Regions from separate parts of the Homo sapiens genome. Here all the other regions are linked to region 2. Evidence: fine-mapped expression QTL. A gene starts in region 2. Each other region holds a variant in brackets. All regions are shown on one strand. Distances are from middle to middle. Region 1 holds the start of LOC102724945 (a long non-coding RNA gene). Region 2 holds the start of EGLN3 (egl-9 family hypoxia inducible factor 3). Region 3 overlaps LOC102724945 (a long non-coding RNA gene). Region 4 overlaps EGLN3-AS1 (EGLN3 antisense RNA 1). Region 5 has its middle 170 kb from the start of EGLN3-AS1.

The links. PIP is the estimated chance that this variant, and not a neighbour inherited with it, causes the effect.
Region 1: its variant is fine-mapped to the expression of EGLN3 in unexposed skin (GTEx, PIP above 0.99). The same link has a PIP of 0.9 or more in sun-exposed skin.
Region 3: its variant is fine-mapped to the expression of EGLN3 in whole blood (INTERVAL, PIP 0.93).
Region 4: its variant is fine-mapped to the expression of EGLN3 in whole blood (INTERVAL, PIP 0.95).
Region 5: its variant is fine-mapped to the expression of EGLN3 in whole blood (TOPMed, PIP above 0.99).

What each region holds. Positions count from the first base shown.
Region 1 is chr14:34,200,827-34,205,933 of GRCh38, forward strand. LOC102724945 (a long non-coding RNA gene) reads right to left here and starts at 2,902. Exons shown (of 9, transcript XR_001750942.2): 1 at 2,833-2,902. The variant T/C (reference allele first, on the strand shown) is at 2,738.
Region 2 is chr14:33,948,633-33,953,739 of GRCh38, forward strand. EGLN3 (egl-9 family hypoxia inducible factor 3) reads right to left here and starts at 2,442. Exons shown (of 5, transcript NM_022073.4): 1 at 1,764-2,442. The coding sequence starts at 2,120. RefSeq lists an enhancer at 2,210-2,379 and a silencer at 2,500-2,579.
Region 3 is chr14:34,015,544-34,020,650 of GRCh38, forward strand. The region is part of intron 5 of LOC102724945 (a long non-coding RNA gene); the gene reads right to left. Among named protein-coding and RNA genes, the nearest start is that of EGLN3-AS1, 22 kb to the right of the region's middle. The variant G/T (reference allele first, on the strand shown) is at 2,828.
Region 4 is chr14:34,052,365-34,057,471 of GRCh38, forward strand. All of the region lies in intron 2 of EGLN3-AS1 (EGLN3 antisense RNA 1), which reads left to right. All of the region lies in intron 5 of LOC102724945 (a long non-coding RNA gene), which reads right to left. Among named protein-coding and RNA genes, the nearest start is that of EGLN3-AS1, 15 kb to the left of the region's middle. RefSeq lists an enhancer at 2,920-2,969. The variant A/G (reference allele first, on the strand shown) is at 2,788.
Region 5 is chr14:34,210,547-34,215,653 of GRCh38, forward strand. No RefSeq gene overlaps it. Among named protein-coding and RNA genes, the nearest start is that of EGLN3-AS1, 170 kb to the left of the region's middle. The variant C/T (reference allele first, on the strand shown) is at 2,243.

The sequences.
Region 1 (5,107 bases), 250 kb after region 2:
TGACAAGGATGAGACACTAGGCCGCCAAGAAGATCAGTCTAAACAAAACAATGACCACCCATAGCTACAGGTCAGTAAGACCCAGTGAGCTACAGTACACAAAAATCTGTGCCTTCCCTGGAGGTTTGTCCCACAGAAAATAAAAAAAGGATCCAACAAAGGGGATTCAAAGGACTATGCAGGAGAGACTATAGAGTAGACATCATTTATTTATCCTGGCTTTTGTTAGGGTAAATAAAAGCAGAAAACTTCCCTGGTTGGCAAATCTTTCGCACACTCCAGAAATTGCATTGTATATGTCCAGTGACATATTCTCTCTCTAGTGAGGAGATAGAGGAAAGGGACATTTGGAGAGAAGAGTGCCAAATAGGTCTTAGTGAAGTTTCAATCTGTGAGATGAGATTGTGTTGTTCATTCTGTCCTACAGCGGAGACAAACATCTGGCAGAAAATATCTATTAGTGCTTTCTTTGAACTGACCTCTTGAGTGAACAAGGTAGATTGCAAAAGAGTGTTTCTACTATGATTTCATTTTATGTAAAATTATAGATTTGAACACAAATATAAACAAAGATGCGTAGAAAGATGACTGAAAGAATGTTGCAAAAGTATGAAGAGTTATCTCTAGATAGTAACTGTTCAGGGGATTTCACGATTTTCAGCATTGTTTCATTTTCTACAAGGAAGAGGTATTATCTTCATAAATAGACAAAACTAAATAACTTTCTTTAGACTAATCAGAAACCAGCAATATTCAGATATTTTATTATAAAAGGCAAAGGAGAGAATAAACATTTATCAGCTGCCTTCCTTGCACTCAGGACTATGTTTGGCAACAAGCCTCGTGAATTATTATTTTTCCTATTTTACAGATAAGAAACAAAAGTGCAGAGAATTTGCCTAACTTGACCAAGACCTCCACCAGTGTTTTCAACCTTTCAGCAAAGGAGAAATCCCAGAGCCAAGATGCTCTTTCACTCAGCTTGAGAAAGAATCCCAGGGAAAGAGGGAGTTTGGGATGGAAGGCACAAGTGCAGGCCCATCTCTCCAAGTCCCCACTGAGAATCCCTCTGACTACTGGCAGAGCCACATATTGTGAGTCCATTAATAGAGAAAATATTGCCCCCTTAGCTGAGGTGTGGCCAAAACAAATGAGAGCAAGATGCTTTGTGATCTTTGAGTAGCAGGACTAGCTGTGAGGAGTCCCAGTGTCACCCATGACATGTGTTCTGGGGAACATCCACAGTGAAGGCAGCAGAGCCATTATTTGAGGTCTAGTTGAGGGTCACCCCACATCAAAGCACAGTGCTAGCAATCAGGATTACCATGGTAACCACTTGAAATAGCTAAGCTTCTCTGGGCCTCAGTTTCCTCAACTGGAAAGCAAAAGGGTTTGCCTAGAAAATCTTTAAAGTCCCTTCCAGTTCTAGGAATCTATCACTCATGATCTAATCCCAGCCACCACTTCTGTCAGAGTCATTAGACAATTGCCCTAGCACGTTCAACTGGCCCACCAGACATTGCTTCAGGGCCTAAAATTACGTGTGGTAATGCAGAGATGGAAAATCTCTTTTGTAATCTGCGTAGGATTTTGCTACCTACTTAGCTTAGTTTCACAACCCACAATTATCTTTGAAAAACAGACAAGTCAATTTACTCTCTCATCTATGTTCCAGAGGGGGGCCAATCCCACACTCCTCCTTCTTACAGAAAAATCCCCAAATCTCAGATAGGAGTCAGGATAACTCAGGAGATTTGGCAGTATGAGCTTGGAATCTTTCCCACTGGGTCCCAAACACTTTATCTCTTAAGAGCTGCTTTTGTAAGGCAGGCAAGAAAGGCTGAGTTAATACTGAGAATTTATAAATGGTTTTGCAAATTAAACAGAATTCTGTCTCTGAAAGGCAACCAGGAGAGTATTTCTGTTCTCCTGTTATTTGCTCACAAGCAAAAATTCGAAATGCCGATAAAAGCCCCTTAGTGCTTGCAGGTAGCCACTTTCTTATCAAAACAAGACAGAAGAGTAAATTGAACCATCCAGAAAATCACATATCCACCCCTTAATAATATTAATTGAGAAAATCTCAGACAGTGGCAGTGTGGACAATTATAAACATGAGATGCAGATGGCCGAATCACAATAATCAAACTCAATTGCTATTTGGAAAGAAAGAGCCAGGAATGAATTTAAATATGTGGTTCAGTGGTCAATTTCCAATATTTTCTCCTGTGCAATCCATATCCTGCTTTCAAAGGTAGGTGGGCAAAGATACTAAGTCTTCCAGATGGAGGTGGGAGGCCTTCTCTGAGTTGGAAATTCTGCATAAACAGCATCAAGCCACTATCTAGCCTCCCTGAGCATCTCAGTTCACCATGGAGGCACCACGAACTAGAAAAACAGTGACATCCCTCTCTTCTCACCCTTTGCAGGACAACTTGTGGTCCAGAGAAATAGGTTAGAAAACTTCCTCTTCGTGGGCTCTGGAGAATCATTTGTGGTATTCACTCCAGGAAATCAATTTCTGAAGTCTGTTTCATAGACTTTAATGAGTTCCTTATTTAAAAAACAACATTTGGCAATCTCTATTCAAATATATTTCATGCGTTTCTATTGAGTCATTTATTTGACAAACCATGTGCTATCTGCTTCCTTTTTGAAATGCTATATTTTAATTGGGTCAAGGATATGTGTGCTATATTTTTTAGAGAATTTTTTTCATTTCCAGAGAAGAGTTATA[T/C]CTAAGGGTACATCTTAATCCAACATAGCAAGAGTCTGTTTACCTTCCCCGCCTTAGCATGTTCCACCTTTTAAAGAGGCTAATGAGTGACTCACGTTTTTGGCTGACTTTTCCTTGAATATCAGGTCTTCTCTGAGTGAGCAACTCATCTTCTGCACAGATACTGCATACCCACCCACCCATCCCAGCTTAAATACTGTTTGTCTTGCTTCCACTGATAGGAAAAATTATTCAGATTCTATCTTCCCACTCACTTTAGTTACGAGAATGGGTGAGGTTAAAGAATTTGGTGGCACCAACTGTGAGATTCACCTTTATTGTCTATCCTTTTGAACTGTCTTCCCACTCACTTCTCTAGCTACAAGAACGGGTGAGTTTAAAGAATTTGGTGGCACCAACTGTGAGATTCTCCCTTATTGTCTATACTTTTGAACATCTCACCATTAAGTACCAAAAGATCAGCCAGGCACAATGGCTCATGCCTGTAATCCTAGCACTTTGGGAGGCCAAGGCGGGCCGATCACGAGGTCAGGAGTTCGAGACCAGCCTGGCCAATGTGGCGAAACCCCATCTCTACTAAAAACACAAAAATTAGCTGGGTGTGGTGGCACGAGACTGTAGTCCAGCTACTCGGGAGGCTGAGGCAGGAGAACCACTTGAACCCAGGAGGCAGAGGTTGCAGTGAGCCGAGACAGCGCCATTGCACTCCAGCCTGGGCAACAAAGCAAGACTCCATCTCAAAAAAAAAAAAAAAAAAAAGCACTAAAAGACCCTGACTGCACACTTACAATTTACTTTTTGCAACCATGAATGCTTTCAAATCTGATTCTAAATTCCAAAATCATGCAAGGAACTGAACATACCCGGCAGACAGCAGGAAAAGTTAAAGTTAGAGAACTAGTTACTGTGCTACATGTTTACTGTAAACTGTTTCCTACTTCCTACTTTTGCCTATAATGCTCATCTTCCCCTTCACCCAACTAATCCCCAGTTCTCTCATCCTTAAGGTATTACCTGTTCCAGTAAGTTTCCTCTGTCCCTAACACTCCCCACCTTGGTTGTCTATCATCCTCCATAGCTGTTTACATCTCCGTCATTGCATTTAACGTCACTGTGTTATAATTATCACTTATGGGTCTGTGTCTTCAACAAAGACAGAAACTAAGTCTCTTTCATTTTTGATTGCCCATGCTTGGTCCAGTCTGGCGGATAGAAAGCATTTACAGTGAGAATGAATGGGCATCAACTGCTCTCTGACTCATCTAAGAAAACAAAAACAATTTTAGATTCAAGGCAAAAATGCATTAAACTAGTGAGAAAAATATCTGAAAGTCCTAAGCAGAAAATTGTTTTAAGTAGTACATATGGCTGCTTGTTCTCCCGCGTGCTGGTGCACTTGTTTCACTCTGACTTAAGAGTGGATATTTATATTTGTAGATGACTCCACAAACCCTATCACTTTGGGCTATCACTACAGGTATTTCCATCTCCACTTACACTCACTCCACAACCTTCTCCATCACCTCAAATACATCTCCCCGGCCACCTCCGCCACTATCTTACTTCTACCACCTCAACCTCCTCTACTATCTCAGCCACCTTCCCACCCACCTCCACTACCTCTTTCACCTTCTTAGCCACGACATTCACTACCTCTATTACCTCCATCGCCCCAACCAACTCTTCTACCTCCATCGCCCCAACCAACTCTTCTCCCTCCATCGCCCCAACCAACTCTTCTACCTCCATCGCCCCAACCAACTCTTCTACCTCCATCGCCCCAACCAACTCTTCTACCTCCATCGCCCCAACCAACTCTTCTACCTCCATCGCCCCAACCAACTCTTCTACCTCCATCGCCCCAACCAACTCTTCTACCTCCATCGCCCCAACCAACTCTTCTACCTCCATCGCCCCAACCAACTCTTCTACCTCCATCGCCCCAACCAACTCTTCTACCTCCATCGCCCCAACCAACTCTTCTACCTCCATCGCCCCAACCAACTCTTCTACCTCCATCGCCCCAACCAACTCTTCTACCTCCATCGCCCCAACCAACTCTTCTACCTCCATCGCCCCAACCAACTCTTCTCCCTCCATCGCCCCAACCAACTCTTCTACCTCCATCGCCCCAACCAACTCTTCTCCCTCCATCGCCCCAACCAACTCTTCTCCCTCCATCGCCCCAACCAACTCTTCTCCCTCCATCGCCCCAACCAACTCTTCTCCCTCCATCGCCCCAACCAACTCTTCTCCCTCCACCTTGGATTCACCACCAATTCCTCCACCACCTTCACCACCTTCTTCACCATCTCCATCACCTTCACCCAACCATAACCTCCACCACCAGCTCTACTACTTCCACCTCCA
Region 2 (5,107 bases):
TCCATTTGAGTTAAATTCTAGTCTGAAACCCTATCCCTATCCATTAAGTCAAAGCTAAATAAAAATATTTAACTTTCAATGTTAGTGGCCTCTTTCCATACCAATTAATCCTGACCTCCCTCAGAGCAAATTCTGCTCCTAGAATGATGAAGAAAAACTCCTAACACCTAAATTTACAAGAAACATTTAAAAACCCAATAAGAAGCCGTCTGCTCTTCCAGGTAGAAACTACCAGCATCTCAGCAACACTGAGGCTGACCCTTCCCCTCCCCGACACACCTCCACCACAGAAGACAGCAAGGTCATTTAATGCAAAAATCAAACTAGTCAAAGACGAGTGACTAATCCACCACCAACATGATGGAAGAAGAATAAAGAAACACTTTAGCATCAATCTCCTACAGAGTTCAGCTCACGCGGAATTTTTTTCCCCAAAGTAAAATTTAGAAAGCAGTATCTTCTAAGATTTACTTTACTTGGGTGCATTAATAACGATGCTTTCAGATATTCTATTCATGGCCTCTTGGCTTGGAAGTTGTACGGCAAACTGTGACTCCCCACTGCACTCATCCACCTCCACCCCTTCACTCCCACACGTTTCCAATCCTCACCACTTAGCCTTTATTCAGAGTGTTCCTCTCAGCGTATTAGAGAAATGAGAGAACAATGGTCTGTTCTGAGACAGGATCAGTCTTGAGACTGATTTGAGAAATACTATATTTATTGTCAAAGAGTGGTACATAGGTGAGTGTTCATCTTCCCTCTCATGCCGGTATACTCTGCTTCGCTGTTTCAGTAAAAGTTTTCCGTAGTTCTGAACGTCCCTTGACCACACCATAAGACAAGCGCAAGTCACTCAGAATTGCCACTGGAAAACTGGCTCAACTATCATTTGAGGAAAGACTGAGAAAGCCTATCCCAAAGTAATGGACATGCACCAACATCGCGGTACCTACATGTTCCCGTTTTTCTGCCAATCTACCTGTGTTTCCAAGATAAATTACCACCCAGGGAGTCACTTCCTGCTATGTGAACAAAAACCCGGTTTCTTTCTGGAGGTGCTTGACTACTCTCTCGTGAGCACTTAACTGGTTGTTTTGAGTGGACTTTGCCATCAATTCATAGTTAGGAAAAGGAAGGTGGTGGTGCAGGGCTCAGCATCAGGAGAGAATTTTCAGTCAAGAAGATGGTCTAACAATGTGCTGGGTCCCAGGGGGCAGAAGCAGCATTCAGAAGTGGAGTTTTACCCTTTCACACCTGCCCAACTCCACAAACCAACTGCCACATGGCAAAATCACAACTGCCTCCAGAATTCTGAGTGCTTTTGTAGAAATCTCTTCTGACCACAATGAAGGGCAGTATTAGGTGGCTTTAAAGTAGGCATTTAAGATCATGAGGACACGTGTGTCTCAGATGATACACAGTGTTTCCAATACCCTTTCCCTCCTTTGGATCTTTGAGAACCTCGTCTTAAAATCGGACCACAGCCACAGCTTGTCTGGCTTTTGTCACCCACAAGAGCCAATATTTCAAAGTCAACAGAAGGTCATCATCATGGTTCACCTGAGCCCCTTAACGTTGACTTTCGCTCAGAGGAGCTGGGGCGAGGGGTGGGGGGAAGCAGCGAGTAGAGACAAACCAGGCTGACTTCTTGGTTAAAAAACAAAGTTCGCTTACGGCCCTGGGAAGTCGACATACAACGGACTCCGAGTGCCTCCCGTCCCCGCGGGAGCAGCTGCGGCAGGGCGCCGAGCGCGTCCTACCTTAGACCTCTCCTTGACGTAGTATTTGCCCAGCCGGCTCCCGCAGTAGAGGACCAGCCTGTCGATGAGGGACAGGAGGAAGCTGATGGCCTCGCAGCCCTCCTCGTTGCCCCCGATCCACGTGATCTGGTCGCCCCGCAGGTGTCGCTTGGAGACGCCGGCGCGCGGCCCCGCCAGCTGGCCGTCCCGCAGGGCCCCGGTGCAGTGCAGCTGCTTGACGCGCTCCAGGACGCAGTCGCCCACCACCTCGCCCAGGAAGTTGTCCAGGTAGCAGAAGCCCACCTCGTGCAGACAGGGCACGATGTACTCCAGGGCAATTTTCTCCAGGTCCAGCCTCATGATGTGTCCCAGGGGCATCTCGCCCGCAGAATCGAGGTCCGGGATCCCCAGCGTGCAACCAGAGAGGGAACGATCTACACGAGCGCGAAGCCGAGGCGCGGGGAGCGTGGCCCGGGGTTCAGAAACCTGCGGCTGCCACGGTACCCGAGCCGCTGCAGCGTCGGGGACAAGGGAAAGTTTCTCGCAACTCTCGGGAGAAGGGATCTGCCTTCGGGAACCAGCGGGAGTGGTGCGGAGCTCCACGACCCGTTTCCGGACTGGCCCGGCGAGCAGTGCGGCGCAAGGAGTCGGAGGGCGCCTTTTGGGGATGGGAAGCCACCACTGCCGCGACTGCGGCCAGACTCCGGGAGACGCTGAGGTCCGGCCCTTAAGCCGGCCGACTCCGCGCGTCACGGGCTCCGCCCCGGGACCGCCTCCGGGACCGCCCTTTCCCCCGCCCCGCTGCCAGTCACCCCCGCCTGCTCTGCCCCTCCGCGAAGGATCCCAGAGAGCCCGGCGCCAACCTTAGTTGTTTGTGACCAGGGGAGCGGCTGGAAAGCAGACTGAATTTTTAGAATGCGCTGGATTTGCATATTGTTTTGCATAAAATCACATAACAAACTTGAAAACCTGGATCCCACACTGAAAATGTAAATAGAATTAACTGCCACATTCTGGGTTGGTCACCTCATAGACTTTTGAGCAAAATAATAACCCCAAAAACGAATATATTTATTAAGCAGTGGTCTTGTTCTACCTTTACCGGGTGTCTTTCCTTATTTACCCCATTCCTCTGCTGTTTGACCCAGTTCAAGCCACTGAGAGATTAGGAGGTATCTAGTTTTAACTAAAATTAATGCATTAACGAATATTTCCCTCAGCCCCTACTGTGTGCAAGGCACTATGTGCTTGAGGAGCTGGGGATGAGCACAATGAAGAAATGCTGAGTCATATCTGATTGAACTCTGCAAATGGTGTATTTTGCTTTGCTTGATGTTTTCCTCTACTTACCTTTCAAGCTTCCTATTAAAATATGATGTTCCGAAATTCTACCTTCCAAATTAATCACATGCTTCTGTAACAGTCAGAGGTATGTCCCCCAAAAGATACACTGTATTCTAGGTCTCTCACTTTTCCCACAAGCAGCTGTACTTTCACAAGAGGGACAGACACCACTGAGAAGACTTTGGTTATCTACAGATAAGCTGATTTGCTTTATGGAGTTTTGATTCCCTTTCCTACTGAACACCAGCGATCAGAATCAGGAAAAAATTCATAAATTGCATGCAAAGCTATTTGTACTTCTTTAAAAAAAAAAAAAAAGGAACTGTATTTTTTTTATTTATTTATTCTGAGACGGAGTTTTGCTCTTGTTGCCTGGGCTGGAGTGCAGTGGTGTGATCTCTGCTCACCACAACCTCCGCATCCCAGGTTCAAGCAATTCTCCTGCCTCAGGCTCCCAAGTAGCTGGGATTACAGGCGCCCGCCACCATGCCTGGCTAATTTTGTATTTTTAGTAGAGGTGAGGTTTCTCCACATTGGTCAGACTGGTCTCGAACTCCCGACCTCAGGTGATCCGCCCGCCTCGCCCTCCCAAAGTGCTCGGATTACAGGCGTGAGCCACCGTGCCCGGCCTATTTGCACCTTTTTTACTTCATATGAGTGCACACTTGGGTTCTTCATTTAAGTTGAAGAAAAGAATGTACAGGTTTTTCGGGTATTGTTTATTGTGGAAGCAAATTTCTACAGCTTTTTCACTTTTCTTCTTCCTCCAGCAGCCCTCTCCTCTCTGCCTCTGAGGGGAGAAAGGGAATGACATCCAGGACAAGAACAAAGAATAGAAGAGGAAAGGTGCTGCTACAAGTTGGAAAGAAGCAGACAGAGGCACGTGGTTGAGTAAGAACCTGGGGGATGGTGAAGGAGAGCAGTCAATGGTGGAGTGCTTAAGAAACTTTGATGAAACTTCTAGTTATATTGAGAGAGGTTCTCTGCCAAGTCAGTGATTAGTTGGCACCTTTGGTATTACCTTTGAGCAGGAGGTACCCCTCCTTGGGGTAAAGGCCATCACTGCTCAAAGAGCTCTTGTCTAAATTCCCAAGGCAGCTCCATGATGAGAGGAGACCATCATCCTTGGAACCCCAGTGTTTAGCACATAGTGAATGGCTAATAAATAGTTACTGGGAACTCAATGTCTGACCCTGAGCCATAGCAGCCTCCACTTGGGATTCAGTATGTCTGGGCTTATCTGGAAGGATCTATTTGCAAAAGGGGCTGGGGAGCCTCCCCAAAGAGAAGTCACTGGAAAAGAGTCAAGCAAATTAGCCTGACCCAGCACAAAAGCTTAGAGGCCAGTGGAGGGAGAACTTAGGAGTTCTACAGGGCATTTGTCTCTCAGCTTTGTCTATCTGAGCAGTGGACATTTGAGTGGTGGGAGCCAGAGACATAAAGTGAAAACTGGAGGACTGTTAAATTGCAGCAAAGGGCCAGGCACAGTGGCTCACACCTGTAATCCCAGCACTTTGGGAGGCCGAGGTGGGCAGATCACCTGAGGTCAGGAGTTTGAGACCAGCCTGGCCAACGTGGTGAAACCCCGCCTCAACTAAAAATACAAAAATTAGCCACACATGGTGGCAGGCATCTGTAATCCCAGCTACTCGGGAGGCTGAGGCAAGAGAATCACTTGAACCCAGCAGGTGGAGGTTGCAGTGAGCTGAGATTATGCCACTGCACTCTTGCCTGGGTGACAAAAGTGAAATTTAGCCTTAAAAAAAAAAAATTGCAGCAAGGAGTGAAATGGAGTGCAGTACCAAAAAGGAGGAAAGCCCTCCTCTCTACTTCTGCTTGAACCCTGCACAGAAGGAACTGCTTTGCCTCCTGCAGTGATCTCCTCCAGGGGCACTATGGATAATGGGGTGACCAGGAGAAACCTGGTCTAAGACAGCCTGAATGTAGACCCTGGTTGGCATTGGGTCGTGCATTTTGCAGCTTTGGGGACTGTGTAAATCTCAGAAGTAGATATCCCTGAA
Region 3 (5,107 bases), 67 kb after region 2:
CCAGTCTAGCAGATCATTCAGTCTTTGGAATTCCTTTTATTTATCTTTGAGTTCAAAATTCTGACCTATGTTTGTCTCAATTTAGATTACTGCTAAAATGGAGAAAAAATATGGCACCCATGAAGCCGCTGAATTAAAAGAAAGCATAAACTAACCTTTAAAAATAGTTTGAATTAAGCTTCTTTGGAAAGGGAGATTATAAGATTGGCTAATGCTCAAAAATGGTAATTTTCCTTTGTTTAACTTAAAGTAATAATTTATCTCAAAATAACATCACAGTTACTTGTAAAGATGATGGTATCTGGCTTTTCATTTGGAAGTGTTTTCCAGAAAGCAACTCAGGAATGTACAAAGTTAAACCTATATACACACCAGGTGTATGCGGTCAGGGGTACGCTTTGTTTACCTGTAACTGATTTTAACTTCTTTTAAAGTTAAAATTGAATTGCTCTTCTTTTAAAGAAAAATGTGCATCACTTTCATTTCAGTGGAGTTTTTTGTTTAACTCAAATAAAAAAGATAACAAAGAACTAATAGCCATATTCAATTGTTTAAAATCTTACAAATTAATGAAAAGATAAACAAGAAAAAAATTATGTCAAAGGACATAAATAATTTTGAAATGGCCAATAATCATTTGAAACAACATTAAACTTCATTAAGAATCTAAGGAGTACAAATTATAACAAGTATAAGATGTCATTTTTCACTAGAGCAATTGGAAAGAAAAATTTTAAATACTTAATGTTGGGGAATGTATATAAAAATAAGTGCAAGGATATACACTGCTAGTATAAATGTAGTGTGAGTGCGTGTGTGTATATATACATCTACATATATACCTTCTAAAAGGTATTGATTCAAATTTATTATATATACACATATATTATATAAGTATTATTTATATGAACATATACAAATATATGTATATGTATTTATCTAGATACATAATAAATATTATAAATATATTTATATTTATTTATATTTAGTGGACAATAATCATTTGAAACAATGTTTAGCTTCATTAAGAATCTACGGAAGAATGTTCCTGAAGGTTCTTCATGGAATGAAGAAATGGAATGGACCATGAAGAAATGGTCTTCATGGAATTCCCAGCATACCTCATACCAGAGAGAGAGAATATAACATCCGTTGTTCCCCATTACTATTCTCATTACATTAAGGATGAACAACAACCAGGAAGCGCAAAACTCTGGCAGCCATAAGCATATCTGAATATGTGATTTCTAATATTTATTTCCTATGTGATACACACACACTCACACACACACAGACACAGAGTCATGTGTGTTTTAAAGCCTTAGATGGGTGCATATTCTTTGATTCAATGACTAGATATCTAGAAATTTATTCAGAAATAATCACAGATATGCTCAAAGATATAGCTACAAGGATGCTCATTAGACAGCTATCAAAAACATTATCAAAAACTTGGAGACAGCCTAGATATCCAAAAATAGAGGGTTGCTTAAGTATGTTATAAAACATTTATACAGCAGAACACTACGCGGAGGCAGAGGAATATTTAATGTTTATAATACATTAAATGAAAAGGGAGCCAGGCATAGTGGCATGCACCTGTAATCTCAGCACTTTGGGAGGCTGAGGTGGGAGGGTAGCATAAGCCCAGGAGTTCAAGGTTGCAGTGAGCCACAATTGTGCCACTGCACTCTAGCCTGGGTGACAGAGTGAGATCATGTCTCAAAAAAAGAAAGAAAGAGAGAGAGAGAGAAAGAAAGAAAGAAAGAAAGAAGAAAGAGAAAGAAAGAAAGAAAGAAAGAAAGAAAGAAAGAAAGAAAGAAAGAAAGAAAGAAAGAAAGGAAGAAAGAAAAGGAAAGGGAGATTTCAACACTATTGCATCACTTCAGTTTTGCATTTACACAGTGAAAATTATAGTAAAACAAATCATGCTATTGGTGGTTTATCTCTGGGAACTGGGATTATTGGTGATTTTGATTTTATTCCCATTGTTTACCTGTCTTTTCTATAATTTCATAAAAAAACAGCTTTGTTGAGATGGCATTCACATATCATACAACTATTAATTTTCTTTTTTTTTTTTTTTGACATGGAGTCTTGCTCTATCGCCCAGGCTGGAGTGCAGTGGCGCAATCTCAGCTCACTGCAACCTCCACCTCCCAGGTTCTAGCAGTTCTCCTGCCTCAGCCTCCCAAGTAGCTGAGATTACAGGCGTGCACCACCATGCCTGGCTAATTGTTTTGTATTTTTAGTAGAGATCGGCTTTCACCATGTTGGCCAGGCTGGTTTCAAACTCTTGAACTCAAGTGATCTGCCTACCTCGGCCTCCCAAAGTGCTGGGATTACAGGTGTGAGACACCACACCCGGCTATTACTTTTATAATTAAGAAAAAAAGCAATAAAATTATTCTTACTGATTGAGGTAAACCTCTTTTGGGCAAATAATTAATCAACATGTCATCTCAATTATTTTAATATTGGGTTCATAGCTAGCATTTATCCAGCACTTTAAATTTTGCAATGCACCTTTACTTTTACACAAGGTTCTTCTAGCCAAGTAGACCTCATTGCACATAAACAACTAATGACCTACACCTGTTAAGTTGCAAGCAATTAAGTCTTGTTGGGGGTCTTTGCTCCCTTTTAATGGAAATTATACTGTGAATAAGACGAGAGAAATATATGTCATGTCTGTCTTTCTGACACACTGTGGGTTTTCAAGGGATTCTCAGCATGACTCCTACCAGAGAGAGAGAGAGAAAGAGAATATAACATCCGTTGTTCTCCGTTACTATTCTCATTACATTAAAGATGAACAACCACGCAG[G/T]AAATGCAAAACTCTGGCAGCCACAAGCATATCTGAATATGTGATTTCTAATATTCATTTCATTTTCCATTAACACACAAAACTACCTTATTAAACGTGAATAAAACCTGCATCCAGAGACACTTAAAATGTTGGCCAATTCCTCACTGAAAGGACCTTAATGATGGTGGGAAGCTTGAAGAGGGGCTTGGAGAGAGGTTTGCAGGCTTCGGGTTGCCAGGGACACTTACCTTCTTGGCTTCAGCACATCACACAGTCTCAGACGGCAGAAAGAGCCAACGCGTTGGAAAACAAGGGTCAGTACAAGGGTTAAATGAAAGTGAAATCATGCTGACCCAGAAATGCAAATCGGTGTGCCTTAGTTCTCTGTAGAACTTGTGTTGCCTGAACACTCTATTCTTTCTTCAGATTATCTAGTGTCCCAAGAGAGGCTTCAGCGATTTCGAGAACAGTGATGCAATGTGGAGAGACGCGGCAGGCAGCGGCAGAATCTAATTGCATTTGAGAAGCATCTCCACAATTTGTAGTGGCCTTCTCACAGGGAAAAGCGGGGGGCCGGTTTTGAAGTTGATTTCCTTTTCTTTATATTGCTTTTACTATCCTTCTCAGCTCAGATTCAAAGCTCAAAATGGGAGGTGATTTTTAAACTGTCTTTTAACCCATCATAAAAGGAAGAACATGCGCACTTAGAGATTTATAATTCTCATCTGCATTGTGTTCTCTAAAGTTGCAACGTGTACAGGAAGCTCCTGGTTGCTGATAGAAAGCTGCTTGAAATATAAATTTCAGGTACACAATGTGGTTCTCATCACGAACGGAATTAGAAGGGAGAGAAGAAGGGAAAATGGAGGGAGAGAATAGGGGCGAGGGGACAGAAGAGAGGTGATAAATCAGAGATGAGTGCCGATTTTAAAGAAAAAACAGAAGCTGAGAACTTATTAGAGGGACTCAGGATAGAAAATTGAACAAGGTAAGCTAAGAATAGATGGCAAAGGGATTATGAATGTGGATCTAGAGCCAAATGGCTTGAATCTGAACCATCACTTAATTTCTAGACAACTTTAAGCAACCTACTTACCCTATTTGCCTGTGCAAACCAGGCTGGGCGTGGTGTGAGCCACCGTGCCCAGCCTGGTTTGCCTTCGTTTTAAAAAATAATTATGAGAAGTCAAGTTCTGAGACTTGCATACATGGTACTTGCTGTTTTTCACTCCTTGCACAGGGAAATCTACATTTGATGGTCCAGTTTACAAACTTTTAGGATAAGAATGCAATACAGATTTTGCAAATAATTCTTAAAGACCTCCTTTACGTAATGAGCTATGGAATACAAAGATAAGTGAGACATTGTCCTTGTTCTTAAGGAGTTCGAGGTCTAGAAGGAATGACAGATCTGTATTAAAGTCCCAGGAGGCGGTATATAATAGCTGGTCAGGAGGAAAACTTTCAAGTCTGGAAAGAGCAGTTCCTAAGTTTCAAATTGGAAACTGAAACATGAGTACTGCTTTTAAACGCAAGGCCAGCCCCATGTTTTGCAGGTAAAGGATCCTACTTAAGTTTGGGGCTGGAAAACCAGCTGAATAGATACTGTCTCAACTCCATGACAGAAGATAAATGTACTATCAGGGTCCAGATATAATAAACATAGGCAGACAAAAATCATTATTAAATTGAACTGGGTTTTTTTTTTTTTTTTCCCAGGGGGAGGGGTGTGCCTGAAGTGTTAAGCCTAAAAAACAGTATTTCCCAAGGAAAAAAGATGTCCTATTATTAGCATCAAATTAGAGAACTATTTGTACAGCCAGGAAAGTCATGGATATTGTGTCACATGGTTGACATCCATGGGTTTGTCTCATAAAAGTAACGTGAAAAAAATCCACAGAATCCCACCTGGCACTAGGAAGGCTATGAGCTTTCAGCATCAGCTCTCCAAGGAACTGCAAACTCAAGGAGCCAGCTTACCTCACGTGTTCCTGCACTTTGTAAAATTTCTTCAGAAATTTAAATTAAAACCGGTTCTTTAGTAATAATCCTTGTTTTCATCTTTGTTGCTTTCATCTTTGCAACAATTTAAACATGTTGTTCATTTTCTGAGTGTCTGCCATGAGACTGGGAAATTAGCTATATTGAACATAAAGCAAAGCTAATTCTAGGAATTTCCAAAGACAAAGACAATTCCTAGAACGTCTTTCTATCAGGGAAACTTGAGGGTAAGTTCCAGAGAGTTCACTTTCCAGATGGCACTGTCCTCCAATAACTGAAATGATTAAGGCCTGAATA
Region 4 (5,107 bases), 100 kb after region 2:
CCTCAAAAATCTATTTGGCCATAAATTTTGCTCCCCACTCTTCTGTCTTTGATACCACATTTATTCCATCAGCAGACAAAAGAGAACTAAGACTATAAGAGCTACCTCTTATAATTGTTAATATTTTCATTGTCCTTTCCCTAATTAATTTTAACTATTTTAACCATTTAGCCACTTGGATGGAGGAACCCTGGTAGTCTACGGAATAGTCACGTCAAAGACTGATTGCCCCCCACCACCCCCAGCCAACACACACACACTTTAAACCCTTCAGTGATTTCTCACTGTTCTTAGGAAAAACAGCCAAATCTTCAGCAAGGTCTCCAATGTACAAGGTTCTGAGTGGCCTGGCTGTGCCTGCCCCTCGGCCTTTCCCCGCAGCGTCATGAGTCATCTTGCTCTGGGCACTGCAACCACAGGGCCTGTTTGTGGATTCCAAACACTCCTGGTCCATCCTGCTGCAGGGCATTTGCATGTGCAGTTCCTGCTTCCTAGAAAGCCTTTTCTTCTTCATCCTTTAGACTCAACTCAATCATTACTTCCTTAGACAAGCCTTCACTGGCCCCGGGGCCCCGACTCCACCCAGCATCATATCTTCTCATAGCATCAGCACCTCTCCTTCAGGCCCCTCTTCAGCTGTTCCTTCATCCCAGGTGTAATTTTACTTGTGTAGGTGGAAATATGTTATTAATGTATTTCTCCTCCACTATGCTTCATGAGTACAAAGACCATTTCTGATTTTTCTCACCATTGTATATCCAGAGCTGGGCACAGTGCTTGAAACTAAAAAAAAAACAAAAAATTACTCACTCAACAACCATATAATGAGCACCTTCTGTGTGCCTGGCCCTGTTCTAAGCCCTGGGAATACAACAGTGAAAAGCCAAAGTCCCTGCCTTCCTGGAGCTTATATTCTAGTTTTGGATAAGAGACAATAAACAAATAAGCAAGATGACTGCAAGGAAGGGTAAGTGTTATGGAGAAAGTACTTCTGAAGGGAACAGGATGTGAGCACTGGGGACAGGGTAGGATAGTATCTCAGATAATGGTCAGGAAAGGCCTTTACAGGGATCTGGCATATGAGCCGAGTCCTGGGTACTCTGAAGGGGGGACTGAATTTTATTGCAAAAGTTAGGACAGTCCCAGGCAAATCAGGACAGTTGATCACCTTGTTGATCATAGTATGCTGCCTGCTTCAGCCACTCACCCAGAAAATGATTCTCTCACACCTTCTAAATTTCATTTCCAGAAACACTCCTTCATGAGAATTAACACAGCTTAGAACACAGTAAATGCTTTGTAATGATGAGGAGACTTCCCAGGAATCCACACCCACTAACTTTAGGAGCAGTCCTGCCTTTGGGATTCCCAGTCAAAACCAGGCCCTCTCCTGCAACCCTCCCACTCTCAGAGTCCCATACTTGGATTTCCATGTGGATGGAATCCACCCAGCAGGAAAAGCTCATTTCCTCCCTCCATCTGGCTCACTCTCCCAGCCTGGAATCTTCCCCCACAATATCCCTTGGCAGACTCCTCTTCTGCACTCCCTCCTGGCTGGCTCAACTTCCGGCCAGTTCCACCCAATAATAAACTACCTGTAATGAACCACAGAGCAGCAGATCCCTCCAGTGGTCCTCCTGCTCCTTGGGGCACACACTTGAGCAGGCCCTGCTTCAACAATTGGCAGCTGCCCGCTTGGCGCAAGCACTCACACAAATTCTTCCTTACTCTCATTAGTCTAAACTAGGTCTTTATTTAATGGATTTAGAAACAGTTCACTGGCTAACCTGATTTTTTGTTTCATCTCCAGTCAAATTCCCAAGCCACTGTTGAAAGCTTCCCTTTTTATCTTCGCCCCTTTCCCAGCCCCAACTCTCCCCTCACCAACTGTATGAGCAACATTAGCACCTACGTCATTGAGATATTAGAAGGATTTAACCGAATTAATATACACAAAGCACCTAGAACAGTCACCAGCACACAGTAGCCCTTCACGTGAATGTATTCAATGAATGAAATGCTAGCCCTTATTATTGTCCCTGAGATCTGAGAGTCATTTGTGCCTTGATAGTAAGTAGCTGCCTGCTATGATTTTATTTGAAGAGACAAATTATCCTGTTGCCCAAATGCTCCCCCAGCAAACTTAAAAGTCCTGCAACCAGCATCTGTATTTAAAAAGAGCACGTGAGGTCAGGCACGGTGGCTCAAGCCTGATTTCCTAGCACTTTGGGAGGCTGAGGCTGGTGGATTACTTGAGGCCAAGAGTTCAAGACCAGTCTGGGCAACATGGTGAAACCCCATCTCTACTAAAAATACATAAATTAGCCAGGCTTGGTGGTGCATGCCTGTAATCCCAGCTACTTGGGAGGCTGAGGCACAAGAATTACTCGAACTGAGATTGTGCCACTGCACTCCAGTCTGGGTGACAGAGCAAGATTCTGTCTCAAAAAAAAAAAAAAAAAAAAGAAAGAAAGAAAGAAAAAGAAAAGAAAAGAAAAAAAAAAAAGCACATGAGAAGGATGGGAAACATTACAACAATTTCCCATTTTTCTCCCCAGAAGAGTTTATTAGATTAAATAGAAGTAGAATACTAAGGACTATAGCTGGATGGGGAGGACAGAGTTTGAGGCTTGTTTAGAAAAGAAGGTCAGAAGCTCTCACTGTAAGGAGGGGAGGCATCATGAGAGCATTGGACTCTTGACGGGGTGAAGGGAGTAAAGCTGAGGGCATGGAGAAGTGGAAGGGGTGTGGAGAGGAGCGATTACAAAGACAAAATTCAGCTAAGTT[A/G]ATGGAGCCAGGTCCTTTCCTAAAGCCACATCTTCCCTCCCCAACTCTGCCCCAATCAAGACTAGACTACATACTGCAGGCATCCTACTCAAGAGAAAAGAGCCTGGATTTTCAAGCCACCATAAACTCAGAGCAACTCCCAGTCCTACCATTTACCAGTTGACTAAGTTCATTGACCCTTCTGAACCATGGATTCCTCTTCTATAAAAACAAAACAGAAACAAAAACTCTCAAAACAAAGTTGTGAGGATTCAGTAAGATAAGGCAGGTGATAGGCCAGCTAAGTGCCCAGCTTCTAGGAGGTGCTCAGATCGCTTAGTTTTTCAGCCAGCTTTCTGACCTCACACTAAGTCCACAGCCTCTTGCGCTTTTTCCTATCTAGTTTTTACATGTAATTTATTACATTCAATTCAATTCAACAGAGATTTTATAGAATGCCAAGCACTAAACTCTGGGGATACCAGAGGATCAGGTCCCCTTGCTCCCCATGGCCCCCCAAAACTTGTAGCCTATATAGGAGACTAAAGATTAAATATGCAGTTACAAATGAACAATGAACATTCCAATAAGGGAAATACAGGAGCTGTCAGAACACAGCTCTCACATTACACAATAGATGTAAAATGAGCTCTATGTCATTTATGCTAAATGTCAAGACACAGGAATTAAGCACTTCCACAATAAAAATCTAGGTGGATACCTCAGTAGAGCAGATTTTTATGTTGGTGGTAGTTTCCAAAGTTAGCACATAACTGAAAGCAGTCACTTGAAAAAAAATCCCTTAAATTATCCATAAAATAGTGTATACATGGTTTTCGTGTACAAGTATGCATTGCTGTGTGTATGTAAATACGTAATAATCTACACAACAGATAATTGACAAAGAATAAATATGCAAAATATAAGTTTACAGATTTTACTACACAGAAGAAACCAAAAGTGAAATTAGAAAAAGTTTGCAAAATCAATGTTCTAAAAACTTCCAGTGGAAATGCATGTTTTGTTTTGATAACAAATTCTAAAGGGCCAGGACACAGCTGCAAGGCCAAGCACATTCACACTCTTCAACCACCCTGGGCTTTTTAAAAGTGTGAATAAAGGCAGTAGCTTCAGAAAATCATTCTTTGGTTCTCTTAGTTGTTAGACTTCTGTAGGAGCCTGTCAATCTTACAGAGTATTAATAGAAAGAAAATTACCACCCCACCCCACCCCCCCCCCCCGCAAAAAAAACCTTATTGCCTTTTATTTTTGGACAGGTTATGGAATCACAAAATCTCAAGGTTGTAAGGGAACCGAAAGAGCACTGGTCCAACCTGTCATCATATGTTTCAATCCCTCCCAAGGGATCAAACAGTCTCTACTTAGATATTTCCAGTAGCTAGAAACTACCCCTTCCATCTTAGAACACCTCCAGCAGTAATTTAAATGCACAATTGCTTCAAAAATTTAATACATCAAAATTATGTGTTGCAGGAAGATCTTCCTGGCAGGGATTCACTTTAAAAGTATTATGAAGAATTTACTCTGCAATATTCTTAGTGTATAAAAGGGTCATACAGACTAATAAGAAAATCGCTAAGATCTCAATAGATAAGAAAAAATGTAAATCATCACATTTGTATTTAAAAGTTCAGTCAGCTGGGCGCAGTGGCTCACTCCTGTAATCTCAGCACTTTGGGAGGCCGAGGTGGGCGGATCACCTGAGGTCGCGAGTTTGAGACCAGCCTGACCAACATGGAGAAACCCCATCTCTACTGAAAATACAAAATTAGCTGAGTGTGGTGGTGTGTGCCTGTAATCCCAGCTATTTGGGAGGCTGAGGCAGGAGAATCACTTGAACCCAGGGGGCAGAGATTGTGGTGAGCCGAGATTGTACCATCGCACTCCAGCCTGGGCAACGAGAGTAGAACTCTGTCTCAAAAAAGAAAAGGTCAGTCTACCTAATTTAATAGGCAAAAAATTATCCCACATTTTAATCCATTAAATAACAAAGGTCAAGACACATTGCACCAAAAAAGCAGTGAGATATAAACTGATGGTAGAACTGTAGATTGCTACAACTTTTATGTATTTCATTTTGGCAATATTCATTTGTCAAAGAATAAGCCTAGAGGTTTGTTGTCGTTGTTGTTGTTTCATCACAGCTGAGTCTACTAATTTACCAGGCAAGGGAACACAAACCAAAACAGAAATTTGCAATGTATCCCTGTTAGGGAAATGTCAGGGGTTGCTTTTTAAGTGCTGGAGAGAAGTGCCTGATGATTATTCTAGTTAAGCATTGACAACTAGCATTCTAGACAGTCAGTCATTTAAACAAGTG
Region 5 (5,107 bases), 260 kb after region 2:
TTCATTACAGAGCCTCCTACCTGCTATACCACAAAATGAATTCACCAGACACTGGACGAAAAGACATATGAAGTGACACAGGCCTCATACTGAAAACACATTTTTTGAAATCGTCTTTATATATAAAACCTTAGGAAATTTTTAGATATAATTTTTAGTTTACCACATTCACATTGTTTATTTAGTTAGCTTTCATTTTTGTCATTAATTTCTAGTTTTATCACACCATATTCAAAGAACATAGTCTAGATGAAGCTGAGCCTTTGAATTAAACTTCCTCTTTTACTTATACCTACACAGGCCTGAAAATCACATATTTTATGTATTTGTTTGATCTCTTTTCAGATATATTTTATATATTTGCTTTTTCATTTTCCAAAAAGGTTTGTTTTTATTCTAACCATAAGTATTGATCTATTTTTTTCTCTTAAGTCAGTTGTTGCTTTTGATATTTTGAGATCTGTTAGCAGCACATATGTTCATGATGATGGTGTCATATCTCCAACATGTAATGTTTCTTGTCCCTTATTAGGTTTTTCACCTTAAATTCTATCTGCTCTGATATTAAGTGCTACCTATGATTTCTTTGCTTCAGACATAACTGGTGTATTTTTTTCCATTCCTTTATTTTCAATCGGTCTATATCCTTTTGTATTTAAAATTTATGGTTCTTATAAATAACATCTGTCCAGATCATGGGTCTAAAAACTCTTTCTGTCTGTTGGTTGTTCACATTAACTCACTTGTATCTACTATAATTACTGTTACTTTGACACTTTGCTATCTTATTTAGTGCTATTTGCCATGTTTTCCTTTTATTTCTTTCTTTTCTCTTTCTTGGTTTTCTTTAAATAGTCTCCATTTTATTCTGCTGATTTAAATGTCATAATTCTATAGTTATTGTTGTGGTGGTTGCCCTAACTCTTTAACCTATACTTATATTATGCTCATTTTTCCTAACGATGTCTAACATTTATCAATATCTACATCCCTCCCCTGAACAAGAATCTAAGTGTCTTCTCGGCAGCTTCTGATCAGTCCCCACACCACTTCCCAAATGTCTAAGGAGTTAGATGTTTGAACGTGACTGTAAAATTGGTTGTTACTTATTCCTCACACACATTTCAAGTTTGTAATTTCCACAAAACACACTCATAAGCAAAAGAACTCTAGCCTATCTAGTTACCTACCTAATCTTTCCTCTCCTGCCTGGAAACATGCATTTTCCATAGTCAAATCAAGTGTTTCATTTTCCTAAATCCAACTTTAGCCCAGATACCTTGCAGCCCGTGGGATCCCCAAAGGACATCCCCAAGGGAGACGTATACAAAGGAAAGCAAAGTAGTAATTTCTGAACACTCTGTGGTTTCCCTTTTCTTAAGTGACTCAGACCTAATTAGGCCAAGCCTAAAGGAGTTTCTTTGCTCTTCTCTGACTCTTCCCTCTGCCTAAGTTAATCCTTAATCTTACCAGAGTGGAAAGGAAAGCCCCAAATAAGGGGCAAGTACAACCTGGGCAGAGAAAGACAGATGGCAATGGAGTCTGCCTAGTGAAAAGCAGGCACGGGCTAGGACAGCTGTCCTGGGCCCTTAGAGAGGACCCCAGAGAGGGTCAGCTCACCACTCCTAGTACCTGGAGAAATAAACAAAGTGAAGTGAAGCCCACCCCAATATACTCCCCGCATACAACCCAAATGGCATCCTGGGTCTGACTTCCTATCACAAAGGCTGAAACAGGTAAAGGTGTAGAATAGTGACACCTGTGTTTCCTATGCCGTGCAGCTCAAAAACTGTATATTGAACACCAACGATCAATGGAAAAATACAGATGAATGAGACACCATCCCTACCCTGTGAGTGCTCGCAGACAGTTGGAAAAGGCAGATGTATTCAAGGCTGTGAGATACTATGTCATAACGAAAAATTTCTCAAAACTTAGCAATTCCCAAGAAAGTCACTGGGACTCATCATCCTAGGGGTACGAGACCTACTAGAGAGTCAAGAGAGGAAAAGTACTTTCTCTTCTGGACCAATTCCCTAGCATACAAATCACTAAAAAGGCTTCCCTTCCCCCAAATTGTCTCTTTTGCTTTTTACTAATGCTGGAAATTTCTTTCAGTGGAGACAAAGCCAGTCTTTCTGCAATTAGAGAAAACAAGCTTAAAATAGAAGTGCTGTGGGATGGTTAGCATGAGTGGAAATTAGGTCAAACCCATGTGTGAATGACTAATATCAGTTGATCA[C/T]CAGTTTTGATAGGCGATAGAGGTTAGTGATTCATAAACCCTGGGAGCTGGGAGCCCCAAGAGTCCCACTGAAAGAAACTGGAACACCAAAGAACACAGGCATGTGTTACAATGTTGTTCAGGCTTTGCTCTGTTGATTTCTATTTATTGGAAAAACAACTAGAACCTGAAGCAATATTGCCTGTTTCCTCAAGTCATCTCAGAAGGGACCCTGTTTTGGAATCCTAGTCCCCATCTTCATCCCCTGATATCTAGGACTGTGAATTCATATTCTGAATCCCACAAATCATAAACACCTCTCACCTAGCTCTTCATTCCCAGATGTCTGTCCAGAACTGTCCACATTCCAGTACTTCATCAGCAGATTAACTTGATCATATTATCTACTGATTCACAGTGTGGCCTTAAAATTCCTCCAAGGAGTCTCCAGGCCCTTCGAGGACAATGAGCATCACTTGCGTCTCCCATGCCTGCAATTATCTGATCATTCCTCCATCACAGTAACTTCATCCACAACTGTTCTTTCAGCTCCCCGCATTTGTCCCTTTCCCCAAACAATTAGATCTCCGCGTGGATAGACAGTTGAGATGGAGGGCTTTTTTGTGGGGAGGGGGCGAATCTGATGCCATTTATATCCCTTCAGAGCTCCAGCCTGGTTTAATAATCCCCAAGCACCACTTTGCGTGCGGCAAGGTATAAATATATGCTAATAGGAGGTCTGGCTCCTTGTCACAACACATTGCAGGCTGCATTCGTGCAAGATAGAATAAAAAGATTAGATGCAATCTTGAAGTCAATCAGAAAGCAGGAGGAAACCAAAAAAACGGAGCTCAGATTGTCAACAAGGAGAGGCAGAAAAATGACTTGAATCGAATTGCAGTTTATCTCGTTAAGCGTTAAAGGAAACCAATTTCCTTCAGAAATTGGAAGGCAATTTAAACATTTCTACAGTTTTACTAAAGTTTGAAAAATTCCAGTAAAAGAATAAGATTTTCTTTATCTCTGCATATCTGACATTTTCCCTGTACTCTCAGGGACTAGAAGGCCCTAGATAAGAGGATATTTAAGGAAAAGTGAGCAGTTATCAACAAGTAAGGAAACGAATCTATTAAAGAAATACTCACGTGATTTCTTCAGCCCCTTCAGGTTCCATGCCAAAAGACCCAAGGAAACTAGAACTGTGTAGGAAAATACCAGCATACAAAATCTGGTCTAGCCCTGGATAAATCACCAGGCTGGGTTAATTGACAAACACAGAAGTCACATTCAACCTATAAAGGCCAAATACATTGTACCAATCTCAAAGCCAAGCTACCTTCCATTGGGGTCGATGCCATCACAAGCTAAAGGCACTGTTCACAATGAACTTAAGTCTTTTTTGATAAGCCCCCTTCCCCATTCCTAGAATCATAAACATTGACAGTGACCCCTATTTTGCAAACCGTATAATGGTTACTCCTCCTTCCCATGCTGAAATGTGTAATTCTCCCCAACCATTGTATCTCATAGAAATCACTAACTAAACCTCCATCATCAGATTTAAAACCAAGCTTTCTCCAATCCCATAGTCCATCCGGAAATTATTGTTAGCCAACAAAAGCAGACCTTTTTTTTTTTTCCTGCATTATCCCAGACAATGAATTCTCAATATTTCCAGAAACATGAGGGCTTAAAGGATACATATACTGTACTAAGAATAGCCATTACCTCAGGAAGAGGATCAATCAGAGTACCTGAAAGGGGCTCCCATATTTTACTCAGTCTATACATGTATTGTTTTTATCTTCTACAGTGAAAAAGCAAGTATTGCTCTGTAATTTTAGAAAATGCATTTTAAGATGTTCTGAGATGAATAAGCTAAGATTATTTTTTTCAGATTCATGCCCCTAAAAAACTGCCAACTCTAACCTCTTGGAGGGCCAGGTGTGGTGACTCACACCTGTAATCCCAGCACTTTGGCAGGCTGAGGCAGGTGGATCGCTTGGAGCTCAGGAGTTCAAGACCAGCCTGGCCAAAATGGTGAAACCCCATCTCTACAAAAAAAAAAAAAATACAAAAATTAGCCAAGTGGGGTGGTGTGCACCTGTGGTCCCAGCTACTCGGGAGGCTGAGGCAGGAGAATCGCTTGAGCCAAGGAGGTGGAGGTTGCAATGAGCCAAGATTGCGCCACTGCACTCCAGCCTGGATGACAGAGTGAGACCTTGTCTCAGAAAGAAAGAAAGAGAGAAATAAAGACAGACAGAAAGGCAGGCAGGCAGGCGGGCAGGCGGGCGGGCGGGCAGAAAGGAAGAAAGGAAGAAAGGAAGAAATGTTAATGTTTGGTATGAGCTGGACATTGCTCAGAGTTTAACTTGCCAAAATTGTGGCTTTTGTCTTCATTCATTGCTTTCCCTGCACAGTCATTCAGTCAACAAACATTTACAGAGCACTTACTACCTCATAGACTGAAAAAGGCATCTGATGTGAAGCTAAAATTTTCCTTAAAAAAGAAATATGATAATTAATGATGTGGCCAGTTGTTCTCCGTTATAATTAAAGACAAAATCTCAGACAGATTCATCAGAGATAACATTCAGGAACAAAAAAAAAGTGCCTTTCCTGGTTTCCCACTTCTACTGACAACTTTTTTCTTTCAATAACTTGTTATGTGCCAGGAGCAAACAATATGAAATCCATTCCTAATGAGCAATAATTATAGCTTTAAGAAGCTGTACAATCAGTGTTCAGTGATTTCATTATTAGATAGCACCATAAATTATGCTAATGCTGATAACAGTTCTGGATGAGAGAGGTCCAGATCCAGGAGATTGCACTGAAATTATTTACATCCTCTATTTCTGAAACAATAGATCCAGCAATTTGAAA